4 linked regions of the Homo sapiens genome follow. The protein of the gene in region 1 purifies or fractionates together with the protein of each later gene. This does not show direct contact. Each region holds a gene or a part of one and is shown in the gene's direction. Other genes may lie near its edges. The genes, in order: PRKCG, PCK2, IVNS1ABP and TCF25.

What was found.
Region 2: the proteins of PRKCG (region 1) and PCK2 purify together in Homo sapiens (affinity purification with mass spectrometry; one large-scale study listed by BioGRID and IntAct). This does not show direct contact.
Region 3: the proteins of PRKCG (region 1) and IVNS1ABP purify together in Homo sapiens (affinity purification with mass spectrometry; one large-scale study listed by BioGRID and IntAct). This does not show direct contact.
Region 4: the proteins of PRKCG (region 1) and TCF25 purify together in Homo sapiens (affinity purification with mass spectrometry; one large-scale study listed by BioGRID and IntAct). This does not show direct contact.

Annotation. Positions count from the first base shown.
Region 1 is NC_000019.10:53,892,074-53,899,874, forward strand, and holds part of PRKCG (protein kinase C gamma type), read left to right. Parts: intron 1-435; coding exon 436-570; intron 571-914; coding exon 915-1,002; intron 1,003-1,288; coding exon 1,289-1,318; intron 1,319-5,885; coding exon 5,886-6,038; intron 6,039-6,366; coding exon 6,367-6,555; intron 6,556-7,801. UniProt on the Homo sapiens protein: Calcium-activated, phospholipid- and diacylglycerol (DAG)-dependent serine/threonine-protein kinase that plays diverse roles in neuronal cells and eye tissues, such as regulation of the neuronal receptors GRIA4/GLUR4 and GRIN1/NMDAR1, modulation of receptors and neuronal functions related to sensitivity to opiates, pain and alcohol, mediation of synaptic function and cell survival after ischemia, and inhibition of gap junction activity after oxidative stress.
Region 2 is NC_000014.9:24,099,367-24,107,167, forward strand, and holds the end of PCK2 (phosphoenolpyruvate carboxykinase [GTP], mitochondrial isoform 1 precursor), read left to right. Parts: intron 1-191; coding exon 192-354; intron 355-628; coding exon 629-847; coding exon of another isoform or gene 848-939; exon of another isoform or gene 940-1,387; intron 1,388-3,386; coding exon 3,387-3,524; intron 3,525-3,793; coding exon 3,794-3,889; intron 3,890-4,143; coding exon 4,144-4,598; 3' UTR 4,599-4,759; downstream 4,760-7,801. UniProt on the Homo sapiens protein: Mitochondrial phosphoenolpyruvate carboxykinase that catalyzes the conversion of oxaloacetate (OAA) to phosphoenolpyruvate (PEP), the rate-limiting step in the metabolic pathway that produces glucose from lactate and other precursors derived from the citric acid cycle.
Region 3 is NC_000001.11:185,305,529-185,313,329, reverse strand, and holds part of IVNS1ABP (influenza virus NS1A-binding protein), read left to right. Parts: exon of another isoform or gene 1-845; intron 846-2,007; 5' UTR 2,008-2,235; intron 2,236-3,818; 5' UTR 3,819-3,836; coding exon 3,837-3,947; intron 3,948-4,157; coding exon 4,158-4,327; intron 4,328-4,454; coding exon 4,455-4,530; intron 4,531-5,667; coding exon 5,668-5,841; intron 5,842-6,190; coding exon 6,191-6,316; intron 6,317-6,702; exon of another isoform or gene 6,703-6,842; coding exon of another isoform or gene 6,843-6,845; intron 6,846-7,686; coding exon 7,687-7,794; intron 7,795-7,801. UniProt on the Homo sapiens protein: Involved in many cell functions, including pre-mRNA splicing, the aryl hydrocarbon receptor (AHR) pathway, F-actin organization and protein ubiquitination.
Region 4 is NC_000016.10:89,879,547-89,887,347, forward strand, and holds part of TCF25 (ribosome quality control complex subunit TCF25), read left to right. Parts: intron 1-3,804; coding exon 3,805-3,966; intron 3,967-5,035; coding exon 5,036-5,110; intron 5,111-6,301; coding exon 6,302-6,420; intron 6,421-7,801. UniProt on the Homo sapiens protein: Component of the ribosome quality control complex (RQC), a ribosome-associated complex that mediates ubiquitination and extraction of incompletely synthesized nascent chains for proteasomal degradation.

The DNA of each region.
Region 1 (7,801 bases):
AGAGATGAGAGAGAGAAGAGAGAGTCTCAGAAGAGGCAGAAACCCAAAGAGAGACACAGATGGAGAGGGAGGGGAGAAGATGGGGGATGGCAGGGAGACAGAGATCAGTTGACAGGAAGACAGAGTGATAGAGACCCAGAGAGGAGAGAAGGGTACAGAGACTCAGAGAGAGAGATCTCGAGAGACAAGAGACAGAGATGGGAAGGGGCGGAGAATGCAGGAGGAAGGGAGAGGAAGAGCTCTCTAGGTTTACTTCAGGCCCCAAAGCCCTAGCTGGAGAGAGAGCCCGGCTGGGAAGGTCAGAGGTCGGAGACCGACAAAGCAGGAGAGGAGCCCCAGCTGGCTGGGTTTGCCCCCACCTCCAGCACCAAGGATGGGGAACCGAGGGGAGCCATGAGCTCGGCTCTGCACCCCATCCACCCCACCTTCCTGCAGCAACCTGAAGCCAGGGGATGTGGAGCGCCGGCTCAGCGTGGAGGTGTGGGACTGGGACCGGACCTCCCGCAACGACTTCATGGGGGCCATGTCCTTTGGCGTCTCGGAGCTGCTCAAGGCGCCCGTGGATGGCTGGTGAGGAGCAGGGCTGGGGCCTGGGGATGGAGCGCAATATTACCATCTCCATCTGTGTGTGGTCTCTCTCCTCCAGGCCACTGTCCTTCCCTCTGCCTCCCAGCATGCGCACACACACACACACACACACACACACACGCACACACACGCACACACCCCTCTCTCTCTATTCTTCTCTTCTTCTCCCCTCCCTTTCTCCCTCTCCCTCTCTTTTTATCTCACTCTTTCTCTCTTCCATCTCTGTGTCCGTCTCTCTGTGTCTCTTTCCTCCCTTCCAATGTCTTTGCCTCTCCCATGGGTGCCCCATCCCCGCTGCCCGCCTCTGGTCTCCGTCTGTATGTCAGGTACAAGTTACTGAACCAGGAGGAGGGCGAGTATTACAATGTGCCGGTGGCCGATGCTGACAACTGCAGCCTCCTCCAGAAGTTTGAGGTACCCAGACCCTGGCTTCCTCAAGGGAGCCCAGCCCAGCCTCCCACGGTTCAGAGCTGGCCTTTCCTTCCACCCCTGAGTGCCCGCTGGTCCTGGGACTACAGTTCCCAGAAGACCCTAGGACTCCCTCCTCTGCTCTTCTAGGGGACTCGAGCCCCAGGGTCTGATGGGAATTATAGTTCCTATCTATCGCCATGGCTTGAGGGTACTAGGGGCCACCAGCCCCTGTTCTAGGGCGATCCCCTGCATCTCTTGGGACCCTGACTCTCTCTTTCTTTTCTCCCAGGCTTGTAACTACCCCCTGGAATTGTATGAGGTGAGTAGAACCAGGGCGTTGAATGGAGGCAGTTTTTGCCTACTTCTCTGATTTCTTATTCCTCCTCTGACTTCTGTCTTCAATTCCCCACACATGAGTTGAGCACACATTTGTGCTAGGCCTGTCTTGTGCTTGCTGAATAATCCAGGATCCAGAGATGAATCTGACCCTCAAGCAACTCTCCAAGGTAGGGACACAGTCACAGATACTTAAAATACAGGAAGATGTGCTAAATTAGAGGTAGCCCAGGGCACTGAAGAGGCCTAACGGAGGCACTAATCCAGCCTGGGGGAGGGTGGTCAGGGAGGACTTCCCTGAGGAGGTGACGCCTGAATTGATTCTTGAGGTTTTTTAAAATTTTTTAATTTATTTTTATTTTTATTTTTATTTTTATTTCTGTCGCCCAGGCTGGAGTGCAATGGCACAATCTCGCCTCACTGCAACCTCCAGCTCCCGGGTTCAAGCAATTCTCTTGCCTCAGCCTCCTGAGTAGCTGGGATTACAGGTGACCGCCACCACACCCAGCTAATTTTTTTTTTATTTTTAGTAGAGATGGGATTTCGCCATGTTGGCCAGGCTGATCTCAAACTCCCAAACTCAGGTGATCCGCCTGCCTTGGCCTCCCAAAGTGCTGGGATTACAGGCATGAGCCACTGCGCCCGACCGATTCTTGAGTTTTTTATTTTTTTTTTGAGACGGAGTCTCGCTGTGACGCCCAGGCTGGAGTGCAGTGGTGCGATCTCGGCTCACTGCAAGCTCCGCCTCCTGGGTTCACGCCATTCTCCTGCATCAGCCTCCTGAGTAGCTGGGACTACAGGCGCCCACCACCATGCCCGGCTAATTTTTTGTATTTTTAGTAGAGATGGGGTTTCACCGTGTTAGCCAGGATGGTCTCGATCTCCTGACCTGGTGATCCACCCGCCTCAGCCTCCCAAAGTGCTGGGATTACAGGCGTGAGCCACCACACCCAGCCGATTCTTGAGTTTTAAAAAATCTATCAAGCATGATCATCTTAATCTCTCCATTCATTCATTCACTCACTGAATATCCTTCTTTTTCTTTCTTTCTTTCTTTCTTTTTTTTTTTGAGACAGAATCTCCTTTTGTCACCCAGGTTGGAGTGCAGTGATGCAGTCTCAGCTCACTGCAACCTCTGCCTCCCAGATTCAAGTGATTCTCCTGCCTCAGCCTCCTGAGTAGTTGGGATTACAGGAGCGCACCACCACACCTGGCTAATTTTTGTATTTTTAGTAGAGATGGGGTTTCGACATGTTGGCCAGGCTGGTCTCGAACTCCTGACCTCAAGTGATCCACCCGCCTTGGCCTCCCAAAGCGCTGAGATTAGAGGCGTGAGCGACCACGCCCAGACGAATACCCATTTTCTAGGGTGTCATAAGCCAGGCCCTGTTCTGGGAATAGAATCAGGCCATTCCCTGGTGGAGCTCTTCTTCTAGTGGAGGACAAAGTTACAAACCCAGACATTCACAACGAGGAGCAATGCTGCTGTAATGGAGACAGCCTCAGGCACTGGGGCGTCCCTGGCACAGCCTGAGTCAGAGAAAGCTTCCTAGAGAGGTGAGACCTGGTAGAAGGGCGGGATTTCCCAAAGGAGAGACCAGATTTTCAGGCAGGAGGAAGTAATGCTCTCTCCCTCATTTACCCTTTCAAAAAATACTTTACAGAGCATCTTTGTGTGCCAGGCGTGGCTCTACTCACTGGGGATATAGAGAAAGCAGGGAAAGAACAAACAAACAAACAAAAAAGTTCCTTTCCTTATGGGATTTACACCGGGAGGAAGACATTAAACAAAATATATAAGCATATGATAGACTGGGCACGATGCCTCATGTCTGTGATCCTAGTAAGGCGGGCGGATCACCTGAGGTCAGGAGTTTGAGACCAGCCTGGCCAGCGTGGCAAAACCCCATCTCTACTAAAAAATACAAAAATCAGCTGGGCATGGTGGAGGCGCCTGTAATCCCAGCTACTCGGAAGGCTGAGGCAGGAGAATTGCTGGATTCCGGGAAGTAGAGGCTGCAGTGAGCCCAGATCGCTCCACTGCACTCCAGCCTGGATGACAGAGGGAGACTCTGTCTCAAAAAAAAAAAAAAAAAAAAAGAAGACAAGAATCTTCAAGATTCAACAACAGCAACAACATGTTATAGTCTTTACTGGACTCTTACAGAAACTTTCACCAGAGTTTTTAATGTTGTGTGTGGGGGTTCACCTGCATCAGAATTCCTAGAGTGCTTGCTTTTAAAAGCACATTCCCCAGCCTTTCTGCAGACCTACTCAGTGACGATCTCTCTGATGCCTCAAATGTCTGCCTACTAAATTAATTCCTCAGGTGATCCTTTTGCAAAGTTAAGTTTGAGAATGGGCTCTGCGGCCGGGCGCAGTGGCTCACGCCTGTCATCCCAGCACTTTGGGAGGCCAAGGCGGGTGGATCACGAGGTCAGGAGATCGAGACCATCCTGGCTAACACGGTGAATCCCCGTCTCTACTAAAAATACAAAAAAATTAGCTGGGCGTGGTGGTGGGTGCCTGTAGTCCCAGGTACTCAGGAGGCTGAGGCAGGAGAATGGCATGAACCTGGGAGGTGGAGCTTGCAATGAGCCGAGATCGTGCCACTGCACTACAGCCTGGGTGACAGAGCGAGACTCTATCTCAGAAAAAAAAAAAAAAGAGAGAATGGGCTCTGCAGGAGACAAGGGTACCAGCGGGAGGACATTCTGAGCCAAAGAGGTAGAGTCTTTTGAGATCAGCAGGGATGATCCTCCCGTACAAACCCAAGAAACCCAGCAGGGCAGATGGTGGGCAAAGGCCTAGAGGCAGGGAGTGTAGGGTGGTGTGTGTGCCTGTTGTGGCTCACAGCACTCTCCCACAGTTCAGCAGGCACCACTTAATATTACCAATGAACACCAACTCTGTGCCAAGCCTTGAGCTAGGTACGGGGCTAACAACACAGCAAACAGAAACAGCCCTGATTATTATTATTATTATTATTATTATTATTATTATTATTATTATTATGTATTTATCTATTTGAGACACAGTCTCGCTCTGTCGCCCAGGCTGGAATGCAGTGGAGCGATCTCAGCTCACTGCAACCTCTGCCTCCCGGGTTCAAGCGATTCTCCTGCCTTGGCCTCCCAAGTAGCTGGGACTACAGGCATGTGCCACCATGTCCTACTAATTTTTATATTGCTAGTAGAGATGGGGCTTCGCCATGTTGGCCAGGCTGGTCTTGAACTCCTGACCTCAGGTGATCTGCCCACCTCGGCCTCCCAAAGTGCTGGGATTACAGGCATGAGCCACCGCACCCAGCCCTCAACAAATATTTATGTAGCCTCAATGAGGTAGGCAGTGTTACTGTGTCTTAGCGAACAAAGCAGACCCCTGCCTTAGGGAGCTCACAGGCAGAAAGCAGATAGTCACACAGATAGATGTAAATTACTAAGAATAAAAGTGCCAGGAAGGTGCTGTCCATGGTGACCAAGGGGTGGTAAGAGAGGCATCTGACCCAGTTTAAAAAGTCAGGCGAGGCCTCTATGAAGTGATGCTTGAGTCAAGGTCTAAAGGGTGTTTGGGAGACAACTAGGAGGGAAGGGGAGGGGAGAGCTTTACAGGAAGACCTAACGGCACATCCAGAGGCCCTGAGGTGGGAGGGAGGACAATGAGTGTCAGGCCAGGGTGGCTGGACCATGGAGCCTGGGAGAGAGAAGAACAACCTGCAGTGTCAGTCTCAGCCTGGCTCTGCAAGTCATGTGGAATAAAATCTTAACACAGAGGGAGCAGTTAAAGGGTTTACAAGCATAGGGGAGACATGACCTGGTTTATTTATTTTTAAATTGGCTCCTGTGCCTGCTGAGTAGAGAATGCATTAGAAAGGGCAGCCGTCCATGTAGAGGGACAAGTGTGGAAGCTGTGACAGCAGCTTAGTCTTGGGCCCCCTCCCTGGGGGGCCGAGGCAGGAAAAGGTAGAGAAGGGACCCTAGCTGAAAGCCAGGTGTGCTCCCTGGACTGGCAGCACCCATGTCACCCAGAAGCTTTTTACACATAACGATTCTCAGGTCCCACCCCAGATTTATAGAGTTAGAAAATCTGGCAGTGGGACCCAGCAATCTGTTTTACCAAACCCTCTAGGGAATTCCGGCTTAGAGGCTAAGAGCAACCAGATTCTAGAGCTGGACTGCTTGGGTTTCATTTCTGGCTCTGTCCTTTACCTGCTGTGTGACTTGGGGCAAGTTACTTAACGTCTCTGTGCTAGTCTCCTCTTCTGTAAAATGGAAACGATAGCAGGGTTTTCTGGAAACAGCATATGATAAGCTATCTAAAAAAAAAAAAGAAGAAAAAAAGAGCTAAGTGTTTGTTGAATAATAAATAAACCCTCCAGGCTATGGGGAGTCAGAGAAAATTAAGCCAAGGACAGGGTAGGAGGGTGGCCATTTTCCTCTGTCTAGCGATTCTCATCCTTTCCTTTCTTGGGTGCTGTGTCTCTTGGGAGCATTTCCTTATCGCTGTGTAAGGTCTAACTGCCTCTGGCTCTTTCTTTCTCCTTTCCACAGCGGGTGCGGATGGGCCCCTCTTCCTCTCCCATCCCCTCCCCTTCCCCTAGTCCCACCGACCCCAAGCGCTGCTTCTTCGGGGCGAGTCCAGGACGCCTGCACATCTCCGACTTCAGCTTCCTCATGGTTCTAGGAAAAGGCAGTTTTGGGAAGGTTGGATTCCTGGGGTTCTGGGGGAAAGGGAGGATGTCTGTGGGAAGGTCAGATTTCTGGTTCTTAGGGAGGAAGTGGGGGTGGGAAGAGACTGGGCTCCTGCATCTTCAAATATGGTTAGGTTGGGCCGTTCAGGTTCCTGGAGAGGAGAGGTTTACAGATGTGGACACTCTCCTTGAGGGGACGGGCGGCAAGTCAGGGCTGTCAGTCCCTTAAGAGATGGAGGAAGGGCCTGGGATCCCGTTTCCCTGCGTCCCTTAGGGAGGGGGCAGGTCCTGTACCACTGGGTTCCCAACATGGACTGGCCCTTTTGGAACTGTGCGCATAGGTGATGCTGGCCGAGCGCAGGGGCTCTGATGAGCTCTACGCCATCAAGATCTTGAAAAAGGACGTGATCGTCCAGGACGACGATGTGGACTGCACGCTGGTGGAGAAACGTGTGCTGGCGCTGGGGGGCCGGGGTCCTGGCGGCCGGCCCCACTTCCTCACCCAGCTCCACTCCACCTTCCAGACCCCGGTAAGGATGGAGGGGGCGGAGGCTGTCCTCCGGGCCCTGCCTTATCCAGTTCTGGACATCTGCGTTGGGATTCTGAGTTTAGGGCGAGGCAAGAGAACTTTGTGCTCTCTGAGTGGGCGAGGCCAGGCGGATTGTCTCCTCAGGGGGCGTGGCCGGGGGGGGGTCCTTGGGGGGCGTGGCCAGGCGAAGGGACTCATCGGGGGGCGTGGCCAGGCGGAGGGGCTCAACGGAGGCGAGGCCGGGTGGAGGGGCTCCTCGGGGGCGTGGCCAGGTGGAGGGACTCATCGGGGGCGTGGCCAGGCAGAGGGGCTCTTCGCGGGGCGTGGTCAGGCGGATGAAATCTTTGGGGGGGTGGTTTAGAGGGGCGGGCTTTGTCAGGCGATGGGATCATTAATAGGCGTGGCCAGGCAGATTGGCTCCTTGGGGGCGAGGCCAGGCAGACGAGATTATGAATGAGCGTATCCAGGCAGGTAGATTCTTCGGAGGGCGTGGTCGGGCGGATGAGCTCCTCGGGGGCGTGGCCAGGCGGTGAGTTCCTCGGTGGCATGGCCTGGCCAGGTGAATGGGTCCTGCGGAGGTGTCGTGAAGCGGTTGAGTTCCTTGGGGGCGTGGCCAGGTGGATGGGCTCTTGGGGGGAGTGGCCAGATGCCTGTTTCCCTGGGGAGCTTGGTCTTGAGTGGCTGTAGCCAGTGCTCTGGAATTTTCAGCAAAGGGGCACAGTGGAGGAGGGTGCCTTCCTAGTGGGCCTGCCCAGAATTGGGCTCCGAGTGACGGGGTCATCACTTTTGGATTCTGACTGAAGGACACATCAGAAACAGGACATTATTTCCTTAGGATTGCGACTTAGGGGCAGAGAGTCAGAACCTGCAAGATTTTAAGAGGGCGTGACTTTACTTCCAGGGGCTCCGAATGAGAGTGGCCAGCCACCTGGATTAAAATATATGTATGAGCAACTTTGATTCCTTTTTTTTTTTTTGAGAAGGAGTTAGCTCTTGTCCCCCAGGCTGGAGTGCAATGGCGCGATCTCGGCTCACTGCAACCTCCGCCTCCCGGGTTTAAGCAATTCTCCCGTCTCAGCCTCCTGAGTAGCTGGGATTACAGGCTCCCGCCACCACACTCAGCTGATTTTTGTATTTTTAGTAGAGACCGGGTTTCGCCACGTTGGCCAGGCTGGTCTGGAACTCCTGACCTCAGGTGATCCACCCGCTTCGGCCTCCCAAAGTGCTGGGATTACAGGCGTGAGCCA
Region 2 (7,801 bases), on another chromosome or scaffold:
AAAGCTTTGGCCTCAGGCTGCTGAATGTTGAGGTTTCCCCTGCCACTAACCCAGGCCTGATGGCAGGGCAATCACTTATATAGTTAATAAACATTGGTCCTCCCTATTAGACCCTAGCTGCCCTTCCCCATGCAGACCATGCCCTGACTTTTGGTGACCTCTTTCTTATTCCCTCTCTCCCCAATGCACAGATCCTGGGCATCACCAGCCCTGCAGGGAAGAAGCGCTATGTGGCAGCCGCCTTCCCTAGTGCCTGTGGCAAGACCAACCTGGCTATGATGCGGCCTGCACTGCCAGGCTGGAAAGTGGAGTGTGTGGGGGATGATATTGCTTGGATGAGGTTTGACAGTGAAGGTGAGGGACTCTCAGATCATACTCTTGGTTCTGGCTCTTGTCAGAGCCTCGGGGTCTCCTCTCTAGTGTTCACAATGACTTTGTCAGTGAGAAAGTTTCCTGAACACCCAACCCTGCTCCATTCCTCTGGCAGCCCAGCCACCCGAGAGACAGCCTTTCCTCATCAGATCTTGGGTCCATCTCAGGACAGGGGTGGGTGGAGCAGGACCTTCTTTGGTCTTACATCTCAAGTTTTCCTTGTTTGGTCCTTCCTTTCTTTCACTTCTCCTAACAGGTCGACTCCGGGCCATCAACCCTGAGAACGGCTTCTTTGGGGTTGCCCCTGGTACCTCTGCCACCACCAATCCCAACGCCATGGCTACAATCCAGAGTAACACTATTTTTACCAATGTGGCTGAGACCAGTGATGGTGGCGTGTACTGGGAGGGCATTGACCAGCCTCTTCCACCTGGTGTTACTGTGACCTCCTGGCTGGGCAAACCCTGGAAACCTGGTATGTGCGGTGGGGAAGGTGTGGCACAGCCTCCAGGCCTCAGCACCTTAATGGTGGAAAAGCTTTCTCCACAACCTCCAACCATCTTCTAGGACTGCCAGGAGGCACAGAAGTCATGAACGTTTGCAGTTTCCAGTCCCAGGCAAAATCTCAGTTCATGTCCCAACTCCACCAGTCACTGGTTTTGTGATCTGGCTAAGTTGCTCAACTTCCCTAAGCTTTAGTTTCCACATCAGTTGAATGAGGGTAGTTGTGATAGTACCTATCTCATGAGATTGTTGGAGGATTAAATAGTGCATAAAAAGGGTTTATCACACTGACAAATACACAGTAAATTCTCAATAATAAATACAGGCTGGATTTTTTTTTAATGAAAGGAAAAGGAAGGACTTTTGAACATTCTTACAGAAGGTATTGGGCTCCAAGCACTATCCATAAAGTTTGGCCCATTAGGAAAAGAGGAAAGCTGCCTCCTCTGCTCCAACTCTCCTCCTGCCACTTGGCTCCCACTGTCCCCTGTATAATAACCACTGTCTAAAGGTCAGTATTGTTACCGTCACCCTTCCCCTGTCCCTCCAAAGCATTCACCCCAATCCTTCCTACAAACAAAATCAGGTCAGTGCTTGAGTCTTTCCCAGAAGCTAGTTTCTGAATCCTGTCATTACCCTGGGCGCCTGGGAGTCCCACCTCTCCCTCAGCCCTGCACTCTGGACCTTCAGTATTCTTTCCATGGCCTTCTGCAGTCAGGCAGTCCAGACACCAAGAGGCAGGGGCAAAGAAGAGCATGGGAGGGGAGGCTGGCCTTGTAGTCACTGAAGCCTATATTCAGGTTTGCCAGGCTGGCCTAGCAGTCACCCTCCTTGCTTCATCTAATCACCCTTTATTTTTACTAACACCATCATTAAGCCCCCCTCAGCCTTCCCACCCAACTGAGAAATCCAAGAAACTTTCATCTTTCCCCACAGGCTAGTTCCCCAACCCTTTCATCATCTCCAGATTTGGGGGCATAACTAGGGCATCTTGTCCCCAGCTTCAATTCCCAGAATAATACCCTGTGTTAGGATTCTGCACTGGGTGCTGAAGAAGGATGGCTCTTATCTGCAATGGCGGGCAGAAGCTGGCGGATGGGAGAGGGTGGGGATTTTGGCCCCGTGGCTTCCCCACTCCCCAGGTCTGACCAGCAACCTCCAGCAGAGAAGGCACCATGTCCACTCAGGGGCCACACAGTGGTGCTTCATACATGTGCCACTGACTTAGTCCCAACCCCCCTCCAGGACACCTGAAGGTGCCAAGTGTGACCTGGGCTCCTGAGGTTATCCCTACCCATGTGATATCCCTATCTCTATTTTTCCAGCCCTATCACTTCATCAGGGTCTAAGCAGGGCAGGGAAATCACCAACATGTTGTTAGCTTTAAAATCAATTCCTTGCAGGGCACAGTGACTCACATCTGTAATCCCAGCACTTTGGGAGGCCGAGGCAGTTGGATCACCTGAGGTCAGGAGTTCGAGACCAGCCTGGCAACATGGCAAAACCCCGTCTCCAATAAAATACAAAAATTAGCCAGGCATGGTGGCTCATGCCTGTAATCCCAGCTACTCAGGAGGCAGGAAAATTGCTTGATCCCAGGAGGCAGAGGTTGCAGTGAGACAAGATCATGCCACTGCACTCCAGCCTGGTGACAGAGTGAGACTCCGTCTCATAACTAAATTAATTAAGTAAATAAAATCAGGCCAGGCGCAGTGGCTCATGCCTGTAATCCTACTACTTTGGGAGGCCAAGGTGGGCAGATCAGTTAAGGTCAGGAGTTTGAAACCAGCCTGGCCAACATGGTGAAACCCCATCTCTATTAAAAATACAAAAAAATCAGCCAGGCATGGTGGTGGGTGCCTGTAATCCCAGCTACTGGGGAGGCTGAGGTAGGAGAATTGTTTGAACCTGGGAGGCGGAGGTTGCAGTAAGCCAAGATTGCACCACTGCACTACAGCCTGGGCAACAGAGCAAGACTCTGCCTCAAAAATAAAAAGATAAAATAAATTCCTATTTGCATTTGGATAACTTAGGAGAACCTGTCTTCCCCGGTTTGCTGACGGAAAGTCAATTGTCTGAAGTACTAAGCTGACATTCTCAGTTTTTGCTTTAGGTTTGGGTATTCATTTAAATAATAATCTCACAAATAATGAAATAGTTTCTGGGGGAAAAATTATTATAACCTTATGCCCATATCTAACCCCATTCCCTTGAGCCCTGGTCAGTGCCAAGTGCCAGTAGCTTGGCACAAACATTAGTGCCCTGCCAAACCCCAATTCCTCTCCCACTCTTTTCTCACATAGCTCAGCTGGCCGCACCTTCATGGCTAAACAACCTGAGCTCTTGGAGATGCCCTGGCTCCCCTCTCTCTGCTCCTTATCACACAAGGTTCTAGGCAGCTGATGAGGCAAAAAAAAAAAAAGAACCCTGCAAGAATGTGTGCCCATGTATGTGTGTGTTGGGGGTCGACATGACCTTGGAAATAATAGTGTTTGTATTTCCTCTGCCAGGTGACAAGGAGCCCTGTGCACATCCCAACTCTCGATTTTGTGCCCCGGCTCGCCAGTGCCCCATCATGGACCCAGCCTGGGAGGCCCCAGAGGGTGTCCCCATTGACGCCATCATCTTTGGTGGCCGCAGACCCAAAGGTAAACAACATATGAGCTCCATGTTCTTGGCAAAAGGGCTATCTCTGTATTAGGGCCTACCTCCCTCCCTCTGATCCAGAGCCTCAGCCTGGATCTCACCTTTCTCCAGAGTTCTCCCCTGGTGAATGCAAACTTGGGAGGAGGCAAAGGGTCTGAAAATGGGATAGCCGAGGTCTTAGGAGAGAGAGTACCAGTCAAGCTCACCAGAAGGGCTGGAGTTAGGGTCCAAAGAAAAGGGCTGCCTGTGACTCTGTTCATTGGTGATCTAGGGGTACCCCTGGTATACGAGGCCTTCAACTGGCGTCATGGGGTGTTTGTGGGCAGCGCCATGCGCTCTGAGTCCACTGCTGCAGCAGAACACAAAGGTGAGCACCCTCACCATTCCTCCCTCTCCTGTGTGTGCACACAGCACGTCCTCTCTCCCTTCCTGAGCCAGACCTTCCTTTTGTCCACCCCTGGAGTCTGATATGGCCCCACCTCTTCCCACTTCTATCTTTTCCCCATCCCTGAAGATATTCAGAACCATAAGCCTTTCACAGCTTCCTCCAACTGGATGCAGGGTGCCCTTCCCTACCCCAGTGAGAAGGAAGATTCCTTACCCATCTTGCTTCCCCCCCAGGGAAGATCATCATGCACGACCCATTTGCCATGCGGCCCTTTTTTGGCTACAACTTCGGGCACTACCTGGAACACTGGCTGAGCATGGAAGGGCGCAAGGGGGCCCAGCTGCCCCGTATCTTCCATGTCAACTGGTTCCGGCGTGACGAGGCAGGGCACTTCCTGTGGCCAGGCTTTGGGGAGAATGCTCGGGTGCTAGACTGGATCTGCCGGCGGTTAGAGGGGGAGGACAGTGCCCGAGAGACACCCATTGGGCTGGTGCCAAAGGAAGGAGCCTTGGATCTCAGCGGCCTCAGAGCTATAGACACCACTCAGCTGTTCTCCCTCCCCAAGGACTTCTGGGAACAGGAGGTTCGTGACATTCGGAGCTACCTGACAGAGCAGGTCAACCAGGATCTGCCCAAAGAGGTGTTGGCTGAGCTTGAGGCCCTGGAGAGACGTGTGCACAAAATGTGACCTGAGGCCCTAGTCTAGCAAGAGGACATAGCACCCTCATCTGGGAATAGGGAAGGCACCTTGCAGAAAATATGAGCAATTTGATATTAACTAACATCTTCAATGTGCCATAGACCTTCCCACAAAGACTGTCCAATAATAAGAGATGCTTATCTATTTTACACAAGATTTGTGCTGTTTTCATTTCCCACCTATCTTCACAGGCTTCCCTCTAACACCTGTCTCACAATCATCTTCTTCCAGCCCCTAGAAGAAGCACAGCCTGGCACAATCAAAGATCTGTTTTACAGGTAGCTCTAGCACTGGGTCACAGACATAGGAATTGCTGGGAGAAGGCACTATCCACTCTATGTCCTGAGTTCTTAAAAAAAAAAAAATGGTGAGGCTGGGTGTGGTGGTTCACGCCTGTAATCCCAGCACTTTGGGAGGCTGAGGCGCACAGATCACGAGGTCAGGGGATTGAGACCATCCGGGCTAACACGGTGAAACCCTATCGCTACTAAAAATACAAAAAAAAAAAAAAAATTAACCGGGAGTGGTGGCGGGCGCCTGTAGTCCTAGCTATTTGGGAAGCTGAGGCAGGAGAATGGTGTGAACCCAGGAGGCAGAGGTTGCAGTAAACCAAGGTCGTGCCACTGCACACTCCAGTCTGGGCAACAGAGCGAAACTCCGTCACAAAAAAAAAAAACAAAACAAAACAAAACAAAAAAAAAACTGAGGGCCTCAGCAAGCTGCTCAGTACAGCCCCCAAGCCTAAAATTCCTGATCTCCCACTTAGATTGCAGAAGCCTCTACAACTCCATTCTCCAGTGAAGTGGCTTCATTGTCAGTTCTCGAATTTGTTCTTCCCCCTGCCTGACCTGGCACTGGGAGCTGCATAGTATTCATGGAAGCATATTCAATATTAGGACAGCTAACAACACTTCTGTGGCACCTTCTTTATGCCAGGCACTGCTGAGACCAGCTCTGTCAAGGAGACCCTAACCCAGCAGTGCTAGAGGAATTAAAAACACGCACACAGAAATATAGAGGTGTGGAGTGGGAAATCAGGGGTCTCACAGCCTTCAGAGCTGACAGCCTCGAACAGAGATTTACCCACGTGTTTATTGACAGCAAGTCAGTGATAAGCATTGTTTTTATAGATTAACTAAAAGTATTCCTTACGGGAAACAAAGGGATGGGCCAAAATGAAGAGATGGGCTCTGGCTGGTTATCTGCAGCAGGAGCATGTCCTTAAGGCACAGATCGCTCATGCTATTGTTTATGGTTTAAGAATACCTTTAAGCGGTTTTCTGCCCAGGGTGGGCCATGTGTTCCTTGCCCTCATTCCGGTGAACCCACAACCTTCCAGTGTGGGTGTCATGGCCATCACAAACATGTCACAGTGCTGCAGAGATTTTGCTTATGGCCAGTTTTGGGGCCAGTTTATGGCCAGATTTTGGGGGCCTATTCCCAACAAGGCAGTGTTCTAAGCACATACCTAACAACCCTTTGGGGGAATTACCATTTTACAGATGAAGTAACAAAGGCACAGAGAGGTCAAGTAATTTGTCCAAAGCTTCACAGTTAGTAAACAATAGAGCTAAGGGTTAAAGTGATAAAACTGCAAAGACATGTCTTTCATAGTAGTATAGACATCTACAACTGCAAGGACCTTAGAAGTCACCTATTCCACCGGGCGCAGTGGCTCATGCCTATAATCCCAGCACTTTGGGAGGCCAAGGAGGGCGGATCACCTGAGGTTGGGAGTTCAAGACCAGCGTGGCCAACACGGTGAAACCCCTTCTCTACAAAAATACAAAAATTAGCTGGGCATGATGGCAGGTGCCTGTAATCCCAGCTATTTAGGACAATCACTTGAACTCAGGAGGCAGAGGTTGCAGTAAGCCTAGATCATGCCATTGCACTCCAGCCTGGGGGACAGAGCAAGACTCTGTCTCAAAAAAATAAAAAAATAAAAAGTCACCTATTCCGTGTTTCTCAAACTTAAAAGTGCCTTTGAATCACCTGGAGATCTTGTTAAAATGCAGATTGTCACTCAGCAAGTCTGTAGTAGCCTCAAGATTTTGTTTTCCTTACAAGCTCCTGGGTAATGCTGATGCTGCCGGTCTGCGAACTACAGTTTAGAGTAGCCTAAATTCATCTGAAATAAACTTTGGAGAGTAATCAGGAAAACAGTGCAATGATCTCACATGAGTCAGGGGCATCAGCTTAGGATAACTTCTGTGCAATCTGGATCAGGCTGAGAGAATGTATAACCTAAGGTGGGTAGTGTGGTAGTCTTTACCCAGAAAAAGGGAACAAACTTCAACAAATAAAATGGAATTATTGGGAACTCCCTCAAAGGAAAAAACTAGAAGAGGAAACACCAAGTGTTCTCATAGGAAATGCCAGTGACCAGCCAGAATGTGTAAAAATCTAAAGGTCAGAGTGGAACAGAGGTTAGAACAAAGTTAGCAGTGGAGTATATTGTACTTTAAAACACAGCCAGCCAGGCGCGGTGGCTCACACTTTGGGAGGCCGAGGTGGGCAGATCACCTGAGGTCAGCAGTTTGAGACCAGCTAGACCAACATGGTGAAACCCCATCTCTACTAAAAATACAAAAATTAGCCAGGCATGGTGGCCCATGCCTGTAATTCCAGCTACTCAGGAAGCTGAGGCGGGAGAATCACTTGAAACTGGGAGGCTGAGGTTGCAGTGAGCTGAGATCACACCACTGCACTCCAGCCTAGGCGACAGAGTGAGACTCTGTCTCAAAAAAAAAATAAATAAATAAATAAATTTAAAAATTTAAAAATAATAATAAAACACAGCCAAATCCTTAGCTTCATAAATAGCATATGATAACTGAATACCGTCAAAAGCAACATAGCACAGGTATTAAACACATAGTAGACTTGAGCCAGAGGTGCCTCTCAGTTGCTTCATCTGTAAAATGGAAATGCCTACACTTTACAGTCTTGTTGGGAAGATTAAAAGAGTCAGTGGAATAAAGCACTCAGAACTATGCCTGGCACCGAATAACCATTTAATACATGTTAGCTATCATCACCTTTCCACTTTATAATGATTAGAGTAGGCCCTGTAAGCGTATATTACATATTGCTGACTCTACAGTTTAAAAGGAACATGAGCAATGTAAATAAAATCTAGGAGAGAAAGAAAATAGATTTAAAAATAAATCCCTCCAGCTAAGAGGCAG
Region 3 (7,801 bases), on another chromosome or scaffold:
CCTTGATGTACTAAAAATCAGGTACTGTCATGGAATTAGAGTAAAAACTAAATAAAAATCAAGCACTAAATACAGGATTCATTTTACTGCAAAACTCATAATAATATTGTACAAATTTGTCTGATGCAAATTGCCCCAAAAATTCTCCAGTGTTTTCTCCAAGGGCTGCAGTAATTTTAACCATTTTTTTCCAAAATAAATTTTAGGTAGATCATTCAATTTGTCAAATATAGTAAGTGGATACCATTTTTATTTTTTGTTAGATCAAGTTTACAAGTAAAAAGTGAGTAAAACTGGTCAAAGTTTAAAATAGTACCTTCATATTATAATGTTTTTGGCTTTTCAGAGGATGCATTTTAATATAACAATTTGCATGGGGACTCCTTCCTCTTATTTTAAGAGCAGCTTATGAAACTGAAGTTAGGAGTTGCCAACTATGCCTGTGAATTGACCATGCCAGTATAAATCATATATATATGAAAATTTTCTTAGTTTGAGCCAGGTCTTGGCTGAAAATGTTTGAAGGTTTCTTTAGGATAGTGTGTTCTCTCTGTGTAGAAAGAATTATGTATATTTGGAAAACATTTGTTAGAACTAGTTTCTTAGAGAAAAGCCAAATTAACTAACCTAGATAAAAGGTAGAGCAGAGGAAATCAATATTACCTAATGCTGTGATATAGTTTTGATGCAAGGGTAAGCATTCACAACAATCCCAACCCGAATTGGCATTATTGGGTTTCCTTGAAATGAAACCTGTTACAGAGAGACCTGTTAGGACACATGTTGAACTAAACATAGTAGGTTTGTTGAATTCGAACTGGACCAGCCTGCAGTGGAGTCCTGTGGTAAGTGATTATTCACTTTGACGTAATTGTTAGATTTAGAATTGTTGTATTGATGTATAAGGCAAATAATCTTAAGATATCCATAAAAATGAATATATTTGCACGTATTTCAGGTAAGTTATTCCTTAGTTCTGGTTTCCAGAGTTAATAGTGGTGTAATAGCAGTTCAGGTGATTACAAAATAAGTACCATCAGAATTTGACACTAGTAATTGATGATGTGAAAATGAGGGAGGGAGAATAGGTAGGAGGACTGATTACCTTGAAGATTAGGTTTGAACCAGAATGATTCCATTGGTAGTTTATTACTGTGTATGAGAAAAATGATTATACAAAGCACAGGCATCAGTATTTTCCCTTCTGTTTAGTTTATTCCAACAAATTACTCATCTTTATGTTCAAGTTTTTAGGCTAGTCCTGGTAGAGAGGAGATGGGATGGATACAAAAGATGAACAAGACAGAAGGTTTGCCCATGAGTCAAGGAAGATAAACAAGTATATATAAATACAGCATGAATATAAATACAGCATGAAACAGACCAGCTGGAAGATCATAAATACCCCTCAGATAGGGTTCTAAATGTGGAGGATGAGGAGAAACTGCTTCCCAACTGGGAGCATTTGGCAGAGGCTCTATGGCTGTAAGATTTCCTCTGGCAGAGGTTGGGTTAAGGGCCTTCCAGGTAGAGAGAAGAACTTGAACAAAGTTAACAGAGCCTGGGAAGTGCAGAGTTCATTTTGAGGAACAGTAACATAGTATATATGCTTGGGAATAATGCCTAAGGTTGCTTGCTGGCTCAAAACAGATCTCATGTTTGCATATTAGTTGGAAATTAATAATAAAGAATATTAGAATTAAACAGTATTGACATTTGTTTTGTAGTCTTGTGCTTTTATACCTCTCATAAACATAGGTCATTAGCCCCTGCCCTTTGGGAAAGGACTTTTTTTTTTTTTTTTAATCACTTGGGTTGTTGCAAGTTAAATGAAAAATGTTTATGTGGAATTGCATTTGTGTTCTTTTTTTATGTAATGGGAATATTTTTGCCATTTATGTCAAATCTCTTGAAGATCAGGACTTGTTTTACATGATCTGCTCTACCTAGATCAATGACAGTCTTTGATTATTCTGAATATCTAACTTAAATTTATCATTGTTATAGATTATGATGCATCATTATCACAGAAGAAATTCGTGTCTATAGCTTTTAAGGACTTGATTACATCATTTTCAAGCCTGATAGTTTTGGAATCACCATTAGAGCTTAAGACACACCTGCCTTCATTTCAACCACCTGTCTTCATACCCTGACGAAGTGCACCTTTTAACACTCCTTTGTCCTTGGATTACTTAAGAGTTCCCAGAAATACATTTGCCACCAACAGAGTAGGTAAGTGAATGTTCTCTGCCTAGTCCAGTATTAAGACACATTGTTTTTCTGAAGACGGATGTCGAGTACAGTAAACCTTTCATACTCTTTTTTTAAAGGCAGAGAAGTCAGTAATCATTTGAGTATAAAAAACATCATATTTTTCTTTTCTATATTTTGACTTTAAATAAATCAGTAACTTCAAATTAAAATTTCTTACTGCCTTTTTTTTTTTCCTTAAAGAGATAAGATCTCTGTTGTCCAGGCTGGAGTGCAGTGGTGGGATCATAGCTCACTGCAGCCTGGAACTCCTGGGCTCAAGTGCTTCTCCTGCCTCAGCCTTCCTAGTAACTGGGACTACAGGTGTGCGCCACCACCATGACTGCCTAATTTTTACATTTTTTGTAGAGACAGGATTTCACTATGTTTCCCAGACTGGTCTCAAACTCCTGGGCTCAAGCAATCTTCTTGCCTTGGCCTCCCTATTACTGTTCTTTATTTTATTTTATTTTTTTAAGATGGAGTCTCTCTGTTGCCCAGGCTGGAGTACAGTGGCACAATCTCAGCTGACTGCAACCTTTGCCTCCCAAGCAATTCTCCTGCCTCAGCCCCCACAAGTAGCTGGGATTACAGGCGCCCGCCACCATGCCTGGCTAAATTTTGTATTTTTAGTAGAGATAGGGTTTCACCATGTTGGCCAGGCTGGTCTTGAACTCCTGACCTCAAATGATCCACCTGTCTCGGCCTCCCAAAGTGCTGGGATTACAGGTGTGAGCCATAGCGCCCAGCCTATCACTGTTTTTTAATTATGCATTTTGTGTAGTCATTAGTCAGTTGTTTATAAGTAATGGTAAAATGCAAAAAAGTTGTAAGTTCCCATTTATATTTATATAATCTGATGAGATAAGTGATTTAGAATATATGAAAGAAAGGAACAGAATATAAGTTCATCTTTTTAAATCACTGTATATGTTTCAAAACATTTATAAAAATAATTTCGTAGATACAGTGACAAGACTAATCAGACTTTTTAAGTTTGTGTACTAGGCAAGGGAGGAAGACATTAGGCAATTTTCTGCATATAAATCTTGATTATATATAATTTTGAAGACTAGAAGCAAATTGGGGGCCCTTTAAGACAACTGAAAAAGGCTAGGATTAGGATAAGTAACAGTTTTTCTCATTTGTGGGTAAAGGAATGACAGGAGCCCAAATCCAAGGAAACCTATATGTACTGGCTATTTCACCCTTTCAGGCTTTTAGATTACTTATTATATGGGTTTGGGCAGGATGGAGTTTCGTTTCCTTCCCTTCCCTTCCCTTCAGAATGAATTTGCTTAATGGGCATGGGAACCTGGCCAAAATTGTCGAGATAGCTGCTACTGTTTGAATCCTTTAAAAGTCTTATGACCAAAGTATTAGGGAACAAAGACTTGGACATTCAACACAGGTGTTGTTTCAGCTAAGTTTTTGTGTGATGAAATTTTTATGTGTTGTTTATAGGATGGAATTTGAGAATAAAGAGACTGTATTACTCTTTAGCATTATATTTTTAAAACCATCAGTTGCAAGTAAAATAACTCAGCTTTCTTTTCATCATCTAGCCAAATTTATAAGGAAAAATGATTCCCAATGGATATTTGATGTTTGAGGATGAAAATTTTATTGAGTCTTCTGTTGCCAAATTAAATGCCCTGAGGAAAAGTGGCCAGTTCTGTGATGTTCGACTTCAGGTATTTAAAACTTAATTCAAAATTTATAGAATTTTTTATTACTAAAAGCCATAAGTTCTTAGATTTGCTTATTTCTTTTTCATAGGCATTTAATGAAATGATTTTTTAAAAGAATACTGAGAAATGTAAGATAAAGGAATCTGATATAGTAATTAGCTAGAGAAGCACATAATCCACAATACTTATAATTATAATTCTTCATAATTTCAGGTCTGTGGCCATGAAATGTTAGCACACAGAGCAGTGCTAGCTTGCTGCAGTCCCTATTTATTTGAAATCTTTAATAGTGATAGTGATCCTCATGGAATTTCTCACGTTAAATTTGATGATCTCAATCCAGAAGCTGTTGAAGTCTTGTTGAATTATGCCTACACTGCTCAGTAAGTACATTTGAAGTAAACCATATAATTAGGGAATATCTTCAGAAAATTCCAAGTCTTGCTACATATATTTAAATTAAGTGTGTTTTAAGGCTTTGGTATCATAAGTAACTTTTTTTTTAAATAGGTTGAAAGCAGATAAGGAATTGGTAAAAGATGTTTATTCTGCAGCAAAAAAGCTGAAGATGGATCGAGTAAAGCAGGTAGAGTATCAGAAGTAAATAAAATCATTTATGGAGTCTTATTTTGTGTGATTGCAATGCTGAATTTGTCATAAAACATCTTGTTAGTTTCAAGGACTTGAACATGTCCCTTTTTTCCCTCAGAGTAGTCAATATGTTATTTTAACTGTTTGGCTATAATAATGTAGCAAGATCACACTTCTTCTCAGATAATTTGGGCTGAAGTCTGACCCTTTCAGCAATCTTCTCTGGTAGGGTGGCTATGTCAGCCTTTGATAGCATGAATTAAAATTAATATTTTTCTTAAGAGTTAATCACATAACTTATATCCTCAATTCTGTGTTCTCCTAAACTTCCTGTGCTCTCTAAAAGTATTCCTTCTAGAATTTAATGCCAGTAAAAAGTACTTTTGGAAAACAGGCATTTAATCCCCTAATGCATGGGGGTCAGTAAACTTAAGGCCTACTGGCCAGCTGCCTATTTTTATAAAGTTTTATTCAAACACAGCCATGTGTGTTCATTTACATATGGTCTACACTGCTTTCCAGCTACAGTGACGGAATTGAGCAGTTGTGACAAACAGAATGGCCTACAAGCCTAAAATGCTTTTACTATCTGGCCCTTTAAGAAAAAGTTTGATTTGCTAGCCCTTCTTCTAATACCACTCCTTTGTTCAAAAATCCTTCCTTAATTTACAGTACATATCCCTGCATTTAGTTTCTAGATTTTCCCTTATATAGTTGCTGTCTTTCCAAAACTATTTCCTAGTTATCTTTTCTCCAACCAAATTAAATTGTTTGCAGCATCTTCTCTACTTCTGTCTGCATTCAACATCAACATCATCTCTCCTGTAGAGCCCAGTTCAGATACTGCGTTTCATGAAGCCTTACCAAATTATTCTACTTGAAAATACTTATGTGAACTTACATAGCATTTCAATTTGTTGTACCTCTCCTTAAACTAAAACTTACATATCTGTATGGCATAATTAGATGTTTATCATTTGTATACGTGTTATTACCACTATTAACATTTGTTGTATTAAGACAGTGATTTTTGATTCTTTGTATCTTCACATAGTCTTTACCACACTGAACATTAAATATTTGTTGAATAAAAGATATGTAAGTGTTGGCACTCATATATTTCTTTTCCAAGGTTTGTGGTGATTATTTACTGTCTAGAATGGATGTTACCAGCTGCATCTCTTACCGAAATTTTGCAAGTTGTATGGGAGACTCCCGTTTGTTGAATAAGGTTGATGCTTATATTCAGGAGCATTTGTTACAAATTTCTGAAGAGGAGGAGTTTCTTAAGCTTCCAAGGCTAAAGGTAAGGAGTAAAGTCTATAAACAGATATATACTATCTAGTTCCAGGCGTGGAATCTTGGTCTGTGTTTCAAGCAAGTGAGTAATGATTATGAAATAATACATTGAAATTATATTGTTATTCTTAGCAGCGTAATGGGTTTCTCCCTACCAGTTTGTTTACTTTGTTTTTGATTCAGTAATCAAATTCCTTACAAATTCCTGGTTCCTTACAAATTCCTGGTTCCTTACAAATTAGAGTAAATGTATGGAATGAATTGTGCATCTGTGACAACTTTATTATGAAATTGGGAATTAAGCTGAGAACTAGGAGCCCAACACTGATCCATGTCATTGTTTTTCCCAATTCTAGTTGGAGGTAATGCTTGAAGATAATGTTTGCTTGCCCAGCAATGGCAAATTATATACAAAGGTAATCAACTGGGTGCAGCGTAGCATCTGGGAGAATGGAGACAGTCTGGAAGAGCTGATGGAAGAGGTTAGTTTTAAAGTAAATGGGATTCAACCATTTTTAAAAATTATTTTGCTATAACATGAAGGATTCCCTTTCACTTTTATTTTATAACCATGACCCTAAAGAATTTAAATTTTGCTATAGGTACCCCTAAGCTGAGAAACAGGGGGGGTGTCCAGGTGAGCTGAATGAACTGTTCAGTTTGGTCTTCTGCTTTTCTTTTTTTATTTCTTTGCTTATTATGTGCTGTTAACTTTCTTTAAAGTAGCATGTAATTTGCTTTAGAAATGGGAAGTGGTACTGAAATTTTCTGTAGATTCTTAATTTTTCTTCACAGGTTTTTGCTTTAAATTTGACAAGTAGGTAAAAGCTTCTAATGGTTGTTCCTCCCCATTGATTTATCTCCCCATAGGTTTATTAACAAAACTAGGATACCCAAGACTGAAGAAACAAGAAGAAACCTCAAGTGTATTGACACGTAAAGAAGCAGCAGTCCTGCCCCAGTTCTCCTAAGAAAAATCCGCTGTGGGCAGAGAACGATGATGATTTAATGGTGTTTACTCCTTTACAGGATTCTTGTCTTTAAAGCTGTGTGTTTTTCAATGGTGTTGTTCATACATATAGTCACTCACTTAACTTGGGCTACTTTTAAAAAAAATACACAAGATAAAATTGATGGAGAAATGGTGGGAATTGAAAACACGCAGGTGGAGCAGTGGAGTAACCTTGAGTTTCTCTCTCCACTTAAACCTTTCGGAGTTCCTTTATGAGGGCTTACCAAATCTGTTAGGCCTGCAGAAACACTGTCATCATTATGGTCTAAAAGGGCTAACAGATTATCTTTAAATTCTATGATTCCCACTTGAAAGTCAGATGCATTTGCCATGTATTTGCATCTGTCTCAATGGAGATGACTCTACAGCTTGCTTGAATTTTTGCATTTGTTTTTTCTTTGTTTTTCTTGACATTGCTTACAGGAAGGAAATATGTTTATGCAAACCAGACCACTTATCTGCAAAGGTGTAAACTATATTCAGTATTTTATTGTAAATATGTATATTCTTTAAGAGTATATATTGTACTAGTGCTTTTTTTCTTACTGTTATATGATAGAAGCTATGAAAAAAATGAAGATTTCTTTCAAGCCAATCAAGCCAACGACTCTTCAGCCAGTATTGGAAGATTTTGTATTTGATTTTGGTTTTTTGTTTTTGTTTTTTAATTTTTACCACCATGACATGTATTTTTCTTTACCTCCGGATCCTGCCAGAGTAATATGTCAAGAAGCTCAAGAAGCACACTGGAGGTTACCTTGAGGCGTTTGTGTAATCTGCATACTAGTGGAGTAGCCATGGTGACCGTAGCCACATGGGTGTTCTGTTGCTGTTTTGCAGGTTCAAACCTTGTACTACTCAGCTGATCACAAGCTGCTTGATGGGAACCTACTAGATGGACAGGCTGAGGTGTTTGGCAGTGATGATGACCACATTCAGTTTGTGCAGGTACACA
Region 4 (7,801 bases), on another chromosome or scaffold:
ATGGGCTTCGGGGCCTGTCACACGTGTTGTCCGTGTGCACAGATGGGCTTCGGGGCCTGTCACACGTGTTGTCCGTGTGCACAGATGGGCTTCGGGGCCTGTCACACGTGTTGTCCGTGTGCACAGATGGGCTTCGGGGCCTGTCACACGTGTTGTCCGTGTGCACAGATGGGCTTCGGGGCCTGTCACACGTGTTGTCCGTGTGCACAGATGGGCTTCGGGGCCTGTCACACGTGTTGTCCGTGTGCACAGATGGGCTTCGGGGCCTGTCACACGTGTTGTCCGTGTGCACAGATGGGCTTCGGGGCCTGTCACACGTGTTGTCCGTGTGCACAGATGGGCTTCGGAGCCTGTCACACGTGTTGTCCGTGTACACAGACAGGCTCCTGGGCCTATCATGTGTGCTGTCTTTGTAAACAGTCAGGATCCCAGGACTATCACGCGTGCTGTCCATGTACACAGGCAGGCTCCTGAGCCCATCACACGTGCTGTCCGTGTACACAGATGGGCTTCAGAGCCTGTCACACGTGTTGTCCATGTACACAGACAGGCTCCCGGGCCTATCATGTGTGCTGTCTGTGTACACAGGCAGGCTCCTGAGCCCATCACGCGTGCTGTCCGTGTACACAGGCTCCTTTCCATTGAAGTTCAGCTTGGCATAGAGCTTTTTATGAATTCGATTTGTCAAACACCTCAAAATAAGAATTTTTTTTCTTAGGAAGTCAGCATGAGTTAATAAAAGTAAATTGGGTGTTGGCCGGGCGCGGTGGCTCACGCCTGTAATCCCAGCACTTTGGGAGTCTGAGGCGGGCAGATCACCTGAGGTCAGGAGTTCGAGACCAGCCTGGCCAACATGATGAAACCCCATCTGTACTAAAAATACAAAAATTAGCCTGGCATGGCGGCACATGCCTGTAGTCCCAGTTACTCGGGAGGCTGAGGCAGGAGAATCACTTGAATCCGGGAGGCGGAGGTTGCAGTGAGCCAAGATCATGCGATTGCTCTCCAGCCTGGGCAACAGAGCAAGACTCCATCTCAAAAAAAGAAAAAAAAAAAAGTAAATTGGGTGTTGTGGCGTGTGCCTGTAGTCCCAGCTCCTGGGGAGGCTGAGGCAGGAGGATCCCTTGACCACAGGAATTTGAGGCCAGCCTGGGCAACACAGTGAGACCCTATCTCTAAAAACAGACAAGTAAACCAGCACCCAGCTTCACTAAGAGACATCATCATTAGTTGAATGTTGGAGATGGTGTAGATCCAATTTACCAGTGACCACCCACAGGTTAGAAACATTTCAACAATAGGCTTTGTTTCAGCTTTCTTCCTTTACTGCAGGGTGCAAGGCAGCCGGCCCATGCCTAGGCCCCAGCTTCGCCAGCAAAGGCCAGGCAGAAGGAGGCATCACCATGAGAATCACCATCATGGTGCTGCTGGGATGGGACAAACCTCGTTTTGGTGGAGTGTCAGTGTTTTCAAGTTAGGGGCTCTGTTTACATAACACGTCTATACTGCCATGGATTTTCTCAACGGGCGTAAGTTGCTCCTGACTTGTCTCAGCGGGCGTTTAAGATGCTCCTGAATCGTATCCTTGTCATGTGGGAGCCTCCATTGGAGAGAAAGCCGACTGACCGGCAAGCACAGACCTGCCCTGTGCTTTCTTCTCTTCAGCAACCGCAGCCGGGGTGTCTGTCTTCCCAGGTGCAGCCGAGTCTCAATTCTGTTTCAGAAACTATCTCAGGGCTATGGGGCTTGGAGCTGATTGTGTTTTCTGAGGTTTGTGGTTTTCAAGATGTTTTAAATTAAACAGGCAGTTTTATTTATTTTTGAACCTTAGTGCATCCGATTGGATCCATCAGAATCTCCTAGTTCATAAAGAATTGTTGATGCTGGTCTCTGTTAGCTTTTTTTTTAAAAAATTTAGAGCTAGAGTCTTGCTCTGTTGCCCACGCTGGAGTGCCGTTGTGTGATCATGGCTCACTCCAGGTTCCAGATTCCAGGACTGCTGGGCTCACGCAGTCCTCCTCAGCCGCCTGAGTAGCTGGGACTCAAGAGGTGTGTGCCACCACACCCTGCTAATTTTTTGTAGAGATGGGGTCTCACTGTATTGCCTAGGCTGGTTTCAAGCTCCTGGGCTCAGATGATCCTCCTGCCTCAGCCTCCCAAAGCGCTGGGATTATAGGCATGAGCCACCACACCCAATCTGTTAGCCTCTTTTTTTTTTGTTTTCTTGAAATGGAATCTCGCCTTATCACCCAGGCTGGAGTGCAGTGGCATAATCTTGGCTCGCTGCAACCTCTGCCTCCCGGATTCAAGCAATTCTCCTGCCTCGGCCTCCCGAGTAGCTGGGATTACAGGCACGCGCCACTGCACCTGGCCGATTTTTTTATTTTCAGTAGAGACGGGATTTCACCATGTTGGTCAGGCTGGTCTTGAATTGCTGACCTCGTGATCCACCCACCTCGGCCTCCCAAAGTGCTGGGATTACAGGGGTGCACCGCCACCGTGCCCGGTCAGCCTCTCACTAGCTGAGGAGCCAGAACTTTTCCTGTTCTTACCCTTCTCCCACTGCCTGTCTCCCCTCCAATCTGTATGTGAATGTATGTTGTGAGGTTTTATCCATTTAATATTATACTCCTAAGATTCATCCATATTGTGTGTTCAGTGGTGGTTCATTCATTCATTCATTCTCACTGCTATAAAAAGGTTCCAGACTTGGCGTGGTGGCTCACGCCTGTAACTCCAGCTCTTTGGGAGGCTGAGGCAGGAGGATCGCTTGAGGTCAGGAGCTCAAGACCAGCCTGGGCAATGTGTTGAGACCCCCATCTCTACAAAAAAATTTAAAAAATTAGCCAGGCATGGTAGCTCACGCCTGTAGTTCCAGCTACTTGGGAGGCTGAGGCAGGAGGATGCTTGAACCCAGGAGGCCAAGGCTGCAGTGAGCCAAGATCACACTGCTGCACTGCAGCCTGGATGACAGAGCGAGACTCTGTCTCAAAAAGAGAGAGAGAAGGTTTCATCGTATGAATTATTTTTATCGTATGTCATTTTGTTTTTCTATTTTGAGATGGAGTCTTGCTCTGTTGCCCAGGCTGGAGGGTAGTGGTGCGATCTTGACTCACAGCAACCTCTGCCTCCCGGGTTCAAACGATTATACCACTTCAGCCTCCCAAGTAGCTGGGATTACAGGCTCCTGCCACTGTGCCTGGCTAATTTTTGTGTTTTTAGTAGAGACAGGGTTTCGCCATGTTGGCCAGGCTGGTCTTGAACTCCTGACCTCAAGTGATCCGCCTGCATCAACCTCCCAAAGTGCTGGGATCACAGGCGCGAGCACCTCGCCTGGCCTATCATTTTCATTAGGAAAAGTTTGTAGGTTGATGGGTCCTTGGTGCCTTTTTTTCCTGCCTGCTGCTGGAGAGGAGCTGAGGCTTGAGGAGAAAGGAGGAAGAAGGAACTTTAATGCATTGGCTGAATATATATATTTAACGTTTTGTCCTGCAGATGGTCCTCTGTAAATGGAGTAAATTACAATATTTGAGGAGTCTTCCTTACCTCATCTCTGAAGGCAGAGATACCCCATAGCCTCGGGGCCCCGGCTTTCTGTAGAGCTGCTGACAAAGTCCCCCTGAGCCAGAGCTGAGTCACTGCTGTGTCCAACAGTCTCGGGTTCTTGCATCTTTCCCGTCCAGCGTCTCGCACTGACCCTGGGGGTCCCCAACGCAAGCCCGTTCACATCTCACTATTCATATCTCAGCATGAGCGTTCACACTGTAAGTAACGCCCTGGCTCTTCTCCAACCTGTTTTTCCAGATAAACATTGACGATCTTGAGGATGACCCTGTGGTGAACGGGGAGAGGTCTGGCTGTGCGCTCACAGACGCTGTGGCACCAGGGAACAAAGGAAGGGGTCAGCGTGGAAACACAGAGAGCAAGACGGATGGAGATGACACCGAGACAGTGCCCTCAGAGCAGGTGGGGGGCTGAGTGGTGAGGAGGTGGCATCAGACGGGAGAGTTCCAAGGCACCCAGCCACGTGTATCCTGTGCTGTGATTTTCCTTGGAGGTGTAATTTTCCGAGTTCCATTTTGGTTACCTGCTAGTTGCCCCCAAATTTACTTGGGAACCTTGATGAGATTTGCATGAAATGAGTGAAGGTCGCAGGCCTTTCTCCTGCATCTCAGGAGAGTCTGCGCCTGCCCAGCAGTGTATGTAACCGCACACGTGTGTCCCTCCTAGCCAACCGCGCACGTGTGTCCCTCCTAGCCGACCGCGCACGTGTGTGCCTCCTAGCCGACCGCGCACGTGTGTCCTTCCTAACTGTGCCCCGAACGTTTGCTTGGCTGGGTTGTGGATCTGGGTGCTGGTGTAAGTGAACTTTGAAGAAACATGCAGGTCAGGTTAACGTGGGATGGGCAGAGATGCAGACAGCCTGCTGCTGTGCTCCACAGCACAGAAGAGGGGCCCTAAAAGGAGAGCTTGTGTTCATTTATCCAACAAGTGTTCTTGGGAGCTTGCTGGGTGCTGGGAACGTGCCTTTGCCCCCCAGGAGCCTCTGGTTGGGAGGGCAACATACATGTGAAGTGACAGGTGGGTCCTGACTTGAGGCTCAGGGTCCTGGGGGCTTCCTGAGGAGCCTTCCTACTGTCAGAAGGGGTTGGCCAGGTGCAGGCGTAGGGGACCACACATACAGGTGCGGTGTGAGGCGGCCAGGGCACAGCAAGGCCCCCGTCTTCAGGGTGGCTGCAGTGTGGCAGGGAGTGGCCGACACAGGGAGGAATGAGAGCTGGACCTGGTCAGGGTCCTGTGAGCCTGTGAGGCTGGACACAGAAGGCCCTGGGGACTGCTGTAGCACAGCCCGAGGGGCTCGGAGAGGTGGGAAGGTGCCTGCTGGAGAGAAGAGAGTGAGTTGAAGGAACTTTTGGGACACGGAGGGAGAGGTAGGGGCTGCTTAGGTGAGGGTGGAGTCACGCTTGCTGCTTTAATTCTCACTTCTTAAGATTTACTTCTCATTCTACTGATGAAAATGTGTTTCTATCATTAGTCTCATGCAAGTGGCAAACTCCGGAAGAAGAAAAAAAAACAGAAAAACAAGAAAAGCAGCACGGGAGAAGCATCGGTACGTGAGTTGGGCCTGGCTGTGCTCTGTCCCTCTGCCTGACGCCCCTCTCCCTCTGCCTGACGCCCTCTCCCTCTGCCTGACGCCCTCTCCCTCTGTCTGACGCCCTCTCCCTCTGCCTGACGCCCTCTCCCTCTGCCTGACGCCCTCTCCCTCTGCCTGACGCCCTCTCCCTCTGTCTGACGCCCTCCGTCTGCCTGACGCCCTCTCCCTCTGCCTGACGCCCCTCTCCCTCTGCCTGACGCCCCTCTCCCTCTGCCTGACGCCCTCTCCCTCTGCCTGACGCCCTCTCCCTCTGCCTGACGCCCCTCTCCCTCTGTCTGACGCCCTCTCCGTCTGCCTGACGCCCTCTCCCTCTGCCTGACGCCCTCTCCCTCTGCCTGACGCCCCTCTCCCTCTGCCTGACGCCCTCTCCCTCTGCCTGACGCCCTCTCCCTCTGCCTGACGCCCTCTCCCTCTGCCTGACGCTCTCTCCATTCTCTTCTGGCTGTTTTCCAAGGTGGTGTTGAAAGAAGCTTACTTAGTATTTTTATTCCTTCCTATTAGGAGTATAACTAAGAGATCAGGGAAAAAGAAAAGGGAAAGTTACTTTCTAAATGCTGCTTCTTGTTTTTACCCTTGTTCCTCGACTGGTTGGCGCTCTGCTCTGTGTCTCTGTGGGAATGTGTGATCTGATGGGGACATCCCTTCTAGTTCTGGTGCTCCTGTGACCCGTGGGACACTTGCTGTTTGCCCTGACATCTGTCCCATGCTTATGGGTTAATTGCATGGTGGGTACAGAACCCTCCACTGGAGCTAGTCTGTCATCAGAAAAAAATATGTTTTCATCATTGCCCTTCGTCCTCGTCTGACTGTGTCCTGAGACAAGGGTGTAGCTTTGTTGCCGTTTAGTTGGAGCCACAAGTCCCAACCCTGTTTGCCTGAGGAGGTGAGCACACCAGTGTGATGTGGAATGCCCAGTTTTTTCTAGGGTCCTTCTGGTTCTGTGATTCTGTCTATGCTGAGCGCTTCTTAGGAAACATCTCTTCTTTTTTCTAAATGTGTGGATGGTACATAGTGTTTGACTTATGCTGTCCTTTAGGAAGTAAATACAGTGTAATAGGTCTCTTTTAAGATAAATAATTTTGTTATTGTTACAATATTTAAAATAATGTCAGTGTGGTGATTAAGAGGTTGTTTTGGGGCTTTTAGGAAAACGGACTAGAAGATATCGATCGCATCCTAGAGAGGATTGAGGACAGCACTGGGTTGAACCGTCCCGGCCCAGCTCCCCTGAGCTCCAGGAAGCACGTTCTCTACGTGGAGCACAGGTGTGGCCCCCGCCCTTCTCTGCGGCTGCCCTTCTCTGCGGCTGCCCTTCTCTGCGGCTGCCCTTCTCTGCGGCTGCCCTTCTCTGTGGCTGCCACAGAGACTTCGTGGGAGGAAAAGGTTCTCTAAAAAAGGAAAAATAAAATGTACTGTCTTTATTTAAAAATCATATGAGTTTATTGGCTGGGCGTGGTGGCTCACGCCTGTAATCCCAGCACTTTGGGAGGCCAAGGCAGGCGGATCATGAGGTCAGGAGATCGAGACCATCCTGGCTAACATGGTGAAACCCCCTCTCTACTAAAAATACAAAAAATTAGCTGGGCGTGGTAGCGGGCGCCTTATAGTCCCAGCTACTCGGGAGGCTGAGGCAGGAGAATGGCGTGAACCCAATAGGTGGAGCTTGCAGTGAGTCGAGATTGTGCCACTGCACTCCAGCCTGGGCAACACTGCGAGACTGTGTCTCAAAAAAATAATAATAATAATAATATGAGTTTGTTATTACTCATTTAGGAAATAGGCCGGGCCCGGTGGCTCACGCCTGTAATCCCAGCACTTTGGGAGGCTGAGGTGGGCAGATCACCTGAGGTCAGGAGTTTGAGACCAGCCTGACCAAGATGGAGAAACCCCATCTCTAGTAAAAGTACAAAATTAGCCAGGCGTGGTGGCGCATGCCTGTAATCCCAGCTACTCAGGGGGCTGAGGCCAGAAAATTGCTTGAACCTGGGAGGCGGAGGTTGCGGTGAGCTGAGATTGTGCCACTGCACTCCAGCCTGGGCAACGAGCAAAACTCCGTCTCAAAAAAAAGAAAAAAAAAATACAAAAATTAGCTGGATGTGGTGGTGGGTGCCTGTAATCCCAGCCACTCAGGAGGCTGAGGCAGGAGAATCGCTTGAACCCGGGAGGCAGAGGTTGCAGTGAGCCGAGATCGAGATCGCGCCACTGCACTCCAGCCTGGGTGATACAGCGAGACTCTGTCTCCCGACAAAAGGAAATAGGAACAAGGAGGAAAGGAAGTCATCCATATTTCAGAGAACTTCTAGTTTTACTTCTTATGTATATTAGAGAGTTCCTTCTTTTTCTTTTTTTTAAGAGACAGGATCTCTCTATCACCCAGGCTGGAGTTCAGTGGTGTGATCATAGCCCACTGCAGCCTCGACCTCCTGGGCTCAGGAGATTCTCTTGCCTCAGTCTCCCAAAATGCTGGAATTACAGGTGTGAACCACCACGTCTGGTCAAAAAGTTCCTCCTTACCCTGTCATCCTTGGATGATTAATTCATCTCTTGGTCTTACAGATGCTTAATGAATCGCTGTCCCTACTTCAGAAATTATTGCCAGCTTAAAAAAAAAAAAGCTCCGTGGAGTCAGTTAAGACGCAGTAGTGT